Regions from separate parts of the Homo sapiens genome. Here region 1 is reported to be linked to region 2. Evidence: microRNA targets listed by miRTarBase, many of them from high-throughput screens and not tested one by one. Region 2 holds a microRNA gene; the other region holds the end of a gene's coding sequence.

Region 1 (3,000 bases), not on the chromosome of region 2:
CTTAAGGAACCAGAAATATGAGGATATGCACAATATTATTCACATTTTACAGATCAGAAAATTGAGGCACAGATTAAGTAACTTCCCAAGGCTACCAGGCATTCTAGCTCCAGAAACTGTGCTCTTACCATTCTGCTACAAGGTATTTCGAAAAAAAGAAAAAGTAAAAAGAAGTCAAAAGGCAACAGAGTTCATTGATTATTCCATAGAACAGTCACACCATGCAATTCTCACACCCTTGCAGACACACTTGACCATGAAAGGTTCCTCAATGAAATGTTCCTCATTATCTTCAGAAGCCATATTATTCACATTGACTTTGCAGTTAACTCAGACCCTAGGTCTGGAATGCTGTCTTCTCTACTTATCCAAAACTATACATCCACAGATCATATAAACTCTCAGCCCTGCTGCAAAGCCTTTCCAGAAAAATAAAAATGGTTGAAAAGGCAATTCTGCTACCAATGACTGTTTAAGCCCAGCCAAGTAACTGAACCATTCCAACTTCAATTTACTTATGAAAAGAATTTGATGATGTAGGAGGTTATTTCAATTCTAAAATACAAACCCATGTTGATCTTTCTCAATCTTGAACTCATAGATTATTATCTATTATCTCAATTTAGTTTGTTATTTATCCTAGTGGGCCATTAAAAACTACCACATGTGTTTCTGTCTCTCCATTAGTCAATAACTAAACTAACGAGCAATTAGTAAGCCATGTGCCAGATGCTCCGCTAGGCACCAGAGGGATAAAAACAATACTTATAGTATACCACTAATTTTCGCTTAGTAACTAGTGAAATGTTCAAGTCATGCCTGAGTCAAGAGTTGAGGAGACATTACAATGTGTAATGGAAACCAAGGAAAGTGAAACTTTGGATAAGTGGGGACTAGTGTATTTATATATTTAATTGATTTCTGACTCTATCATTGGCCTCCAAACACAGATTGTGTTTTTCTTTGGTTTTGTTTTCTTCACTATGGGATCTTCTGTGCCCAGCACAGTGCCTGACACATAGAAAACAATCAAATATTTGCTGAATAAATGATTAAAAAATCAGAGAACTTTCCCATTCTGTTTGGATCTATAGAACATCCAGAGTAAGTGATGAGGGCCTCTGCATTTATATGCGCTTAAATTAAGATTATGTGAGAAAAGTTTAAAGACACTTAGTAGAGTGATTTTGAAATATAGTAAACACTTGGAAATGGTGGTGCTTTAAAAAGATATTAATAGATAATATGAAAATCTCCATCTCAAAAATAATGCATAAACTATTTAAAGGAAAATCACATCTCCAGGCTTTCAATGTTTGTTCATTACTTTTTCATATATTTTTACCATCTGCTGAAGGCAGTCATATCAAAGGGTAAAGAAAGATGGGAGGAAAACTCAGTAAGAATTATATTAGTCTGTTTGCAAAGTAGAAAAAGATTCTCATCACTCAACCTTATGAGCAGGAAGAGGGAAGGCTGTTTGAGAACCATTTACTTAGCAGAACCACATATTTTAGACACTTCCCTGCATTAACTGCACAAACAATATGTTTGCAAACTTGTTAGATCAACCTCCAACAACGACACATTCAGGAGTTAAATATTTTTCATCAAACATTGGATTTTTCCTTAACGCTAGAGATTGCTACAAATCTTCTGAAGGGTCTCAATGGCTTCAGGCTAAGAAGAGATTTCTCCCTGTTATAAGCAGCAAGACAAATTAGCCATTTCACTCTCAAACTTCACTAATGATCACATTCTTTCCAAAAGGAACTCTAGAAGACCAAATGCCCCGAGTTAAGAACATCAAAACTAACCATCTGAAGAAACTTCCCAAGTGTAAGACTCTGCCATTAAAACATTACCGAGAGGGGACTCAAACAGTCTTTCTTCCTTTGTCGTGTTTCTTGCTCCCAGACCAAGGCACTGACGACAGTACTGATACATAATTTAAAAGCACACTCCCTTCCACTTTGTAATACCAGAACTCTAATTGGACACCCTGAAGCTTAGGACTACCAGCCATACAAATAGTAAACTCTGTCCACGATTCACTCATCTGTGTATTTTCTATAGATGTTTACTAGGCGTTTGTTATATAAAAATACCCCGGCCAGGCACGGTGGCTCACGCCTGTAATCCCAGCACTTTGGGAGGTGGGTGGATCACCTGAGGTCGGGAGTTCGAGACCAGCCTGACCAGCATGGTGGAACCCCCATCTCTACTAAAAACACAAAAAATTAGCCGGGCGTGGTGGCACATGCCTGTAATCCCAGCTACTCAGGAGGCTGAGGCGGAGAATTGCTTGAACCCGGAAGGTGGAGGTTGCGGTGAGCTGAGATTGCACTATTGCACTCCAGCCTGGGCAACAGGAGTAAAACTCCCCCCCACCCAAAAAAAAAAACAACAACAACAAAAAACCAAAAAACCAAAAAACCAATGGTAAATTACACTCTTTCCCTTTCCCCAACACTCTCTCTCTCTCTCTCTCTCTTTCACACACACACACACACACACACACACACACACACACACACACACACCAGACCGATTAGCTAACTTAGTGGAAAAGACACTTAGATTCCTTCTTCATATGTGAATTTAGCTCACAGGACTAGTGAGGGAATATCATTATCACGGGAAGACACAGAAACCACACAGGACTCTGAGCCACTCCTAGTTTTACCCCTCCTTAGCCTGTGACTTGGCTTTTCTGCTCCATCATCTACACAAGAAGAATAGCAGTGACTAGCACCCACAAGCCTCTCAGGATAGACTTGGCAGGCAAGGTAACCCACCACTTAAGAGCACAGGTTTAACTCCAGGCTGAATACTGCCCTGGTCATTTCACTAGCTGTGTGACCTTAGTATCAATATGTCTGGTGCATAAAAAATGTTAAATGATAAGCCCCTGTCATTTCTCCTTTAAAAATTGCAAAGCACTCTACGAATATTCACTTCTATTATCTAAAAATGCACATAAAAAAGACACCCAGTAAT
Region 2 (3,170 bases):
TTTTTTATGGCTGAGTAGTATTCCATGTTGTATATGTACATTTTCTGTATCCATTCATCTGTTGTTGGACACCTAGGTTGATTCCATGTCTTGGCCGTTGTGAATAGCGCTGCAATAAACTTGGGGTTTGGATGTCTCTTCACGCCTTTTAAGTTCATGCCTTTTCTGTCACCTTTTCCATTGATTCTATGCACATAGCACCTCTTGCAGGCATATCTTGTCCCATAACCAGACCGGAACACTCATTTGTTCTCAGAATGCTTTCTGCATGGTAACTTGGAGAGCTATTTGAGTTACGGTCTATACCTCATGCTTATATTGGACCTGGTGGTAGCAAGTGTTTCATAAATTCTTCTACTTGGTTAATCTGTCATTTTCTTTTGGAATGAGTAGTTGCAGAGCCACATTAAGATCCTTATAGGCCAGGCACGGTGGCTCATGCCTGTAACCCAGCACGTTGGACGGCTGAGTAAGGTCAGAGGATTACTTCAGACCAGGCGTTCGAGACCAGCCTGACCAACATGGTGAAACCCTGTCTCTACTAAAAATACAAAAATTAACTGGGCGTGGTGGTGGGCGCCTGTAATCCCAGCTACTCAGGAGACTGAGGCACGAGAATCACTTGAACCTAGGAGGCGGAGGTTGTGGTGAGCTGAAATCGTGGCCACTGCACTCCAGCCGGGGCGACAGAGCGAGACTGTCTCAAAAATAACAATAATAATAAATCCTTATAAACCCTAAATGCTGAAAGATGATGGCATTTCCCCATGCGTAATTTAAAATAAAGACAATACCCAGGCTGTGCGTGGTGGCTCACGCCTGTAATCCCAGCTCTTCGGGAGGCCGAGGCGAGTGGATCACTTGACGTCAGGAGTTTGAGACCAGCCTGACCAACATGGTGAAACCCCGTCTCTACTAAAAGTATGAACAATTAGCCAGGTATGGTGGCGGGCACCTGTAATTTCAGCTATTCCGGAGGCTGAGGCAGGAGAACCGCTTGAACCTGGGGGGGCGGAGATTGCAGTGAGCCAAGATCCTGCCACTGCACCCTGGCCTGGGCGACAGAGCCAAACTCAGTCTCAGAACAACAACAACAAAAAGCAAAAATTGCCTATCATTCATGACGGCAGGGGAAGAGTTCCAAGATTTCCAGCTGGGCGGTTGAGACGGTGGACCAGGACAGCAGGGAGACGGACACAGGGAGGGAGCCCCAGTCTGTGGAACACCATCCCACTTACCGTAGCTCCCCACTGGCAGTGTGTATGAGTCTTGGTGGTATCTTGTGTGCGGGTCTGAGCTAGGGGGCGTGGCCCCAGGAGCATCCAAGGTTCTGGTTGGGGCAGCCACAAGGTGTCTGAAGAGCAGCGGGGTTTGGTCGTCCTGGCACTTCCGCAAGCAGCCTTTCCAGCTGTAGCTCCGGAAGGTGCTCTGACATGACAGTTCAAAAACACACTTCCCCCTGGCCTGGGCTTCAACACTCACTTGTCAGAAAGTGAGGTCCTGTATGCCCCAGTCCTCGGCCAGAGAAGCAAGAAGCAGATTTCCCAGAGGCTGTGGCCCCTTGCATTGGTGAGGACACTGGGGTGCTACCTCTGTTTGAGGGGTGACTGACAACTGTGCTTTCTTAGGGTGGAGTTGGTCTGCTGTCGTGACTGTCTGCTTGAGATACTGACCCCTGGCGATCAGATTCTGGAAGTCCTCTCCTGAGGCTGCTGAAGTCGTCCCAGAGGCTTGTCCAGCCACAGCAGTGGAGAAAGATCCAATCAGGCAGGCAGGGGCAAACGGGAAGTCGGGAGGGTACCCTCCCCGCTCCCTGAGAAGTGTGGACTTTCAAAAGGAAGTGAGAAAGAGGAAGGTCTTGCCTAGGCATGGGGTAGACCTGTTTGATGCAGGCGGACTTCAGGGAAAGCTGGTCCTCAGTGCCACAGTGCTGTGGCTGTCGGGCGGCAGGCACTGGCTCACAGCCGTGGTGGGGACGCCTTGTTTCTCGGAAGGACAGAACCGCCCTCCTGCAGCTCCTGTTCCTGGCTTCACATTAGAATTAACTGGGGAGCTAAAAAAAAAAAAAACCTGATGCCCCAGAAATTCTGATTTGATAGTTTCTGCCTTGATGCCTAGACAAAAAATGTCCTGAAACAATACTTCACCTCAGACAATACTGTACATGCTGATGTTTTCTAGTCTGTTCCATTTCATTAAGAAAGATTCTGGTCTTATTCCAGTAAATTGATTTCAAGGCCACTAATGGGTGGTGACCCACACTTTTGAGATGCCTGTTCCGGGCATCACCTCCCACTGCAGAGCCTGGGGAGCCGGACAGCTCCCTTCCCAGGCTCTGCAGTGGGAACTGATGCCTGGAACAGTTCCTGCAGCCGGTCTCCAGTGTGATTCAGGTCCTGCGGCAAGTTCTAGGTGGTCCAAGTGAGGCAGAAGCCTTGCTGGAGGCTTTACCCGTCCACACTGCTGTGGAGCCTCTGAGCCTCCATGGAGGCTCCCCAAGCCAGGCAGCAGGGGAGGAAGCGTCTGGTAGGAGGGTGGAAGGCATCACGATAACTAGCCACCTGCAAGGGCTAAATCTCTCTGGGACGTTTGCACGAGGAACATTCCGAACCCATGAATAGAGGAGGGCTGCGGATCTGGTAGCTGAGGAAATTCAGTAGAAAAGCGAGAAATGTATGCCAGGTGCAGTGGCACACACCTGCAGCCCCAGCTACTTGGGAGGCTGAGGTGGGAGGATTGCTTGAGCCCAGGAGAGTGAGACCAGCCTGGGCAACATAGTGAGATCCTGTCCCTACAAATAAAAAATTAAAAAATTAGCTAGGTGTGGAGGCATGTGCCTGTAGTGCCAGCTACTTGGGAGGCTGAGGTGGGAGGATTGCCTGAGCCTGGGAAGTTGAGGCTGCAGTGAGCCTTGATCGTACCGCTGCACTCCAGCCCGGGCAACAGAAAGAGACCTTGTCTTTAAAAAAAGGAAGAAGAGGCTGGGCACGGTGGCTCACGCCTGTAATCCCAGCACTTTGGGAGGCTGAGGTGGGCAGATCACCTGAGCTCAGAAGTTCGAGACCAGCTTGATCAACATGGTGAAACCCCATCTCTACTAAAAATACAAAAAAATTAGCTGTGCATGGTGGTGGGTGTCTGTAATCCCAGCTACTCGGGAGGCTAAGGCA

Evidence for each region. Region 2 holds the annotated microRNA hsa-miR-3155b (CCAGGCUCUGCAGUGGGA, at 2,329-2,346, shown strand). A microRNA usually pairs through its seed, bases 2 to 8, with sites in the 3' UTR of a target mRNA and lowers its output. Matches are read on the target gene's strand: a 7mer-m8 pairs with bases 2 to 8, a 7mer-A1 pairs with bases 2 to 7 and ends in A, and an 8mer does both.
Region 1: miRTarBase lists PBOV1 as a target of hsa-miR-3155b. Seed matches in the 3' UTR shown: 7mer-A1 at 2,192-2,198.

Annotation. Positions count from the first base shown.
Region 1 is chr6:138,215,385-138,218,384 of GRCh38, reverse strand. It overlaps PBOV1 (prostate and breast cancer overexpressed 1), which reads left to right. Exons shown (of 1, transcript NM_021635.3): 1 at 1-2,399. The coding sequence ends at 397. The region is part of intron 4 of ARFGEF3 (ARFGEF family member 3); the gene reads right to left. Among named protein-coding and RNA genes, the nearest start is that of PBOV1, 1.6 kb to the left of the region's middle.
Region 2 is chr10:6,149,919-6,153,088 of GRCh38, forward strand. MIR3155A (microRNA 3155a) reads left to right here and starts at 2,278; the gene lies at 2,278-2,359. It overlaps MIR3155B (microRNA 3155b), which reads right to left and starts at 2,344; the gene lies at 2,289-2,344. It also overlaps a transcript of PFKFB3 not described here. RefSeq lists an enhancer at 1,648-1,697.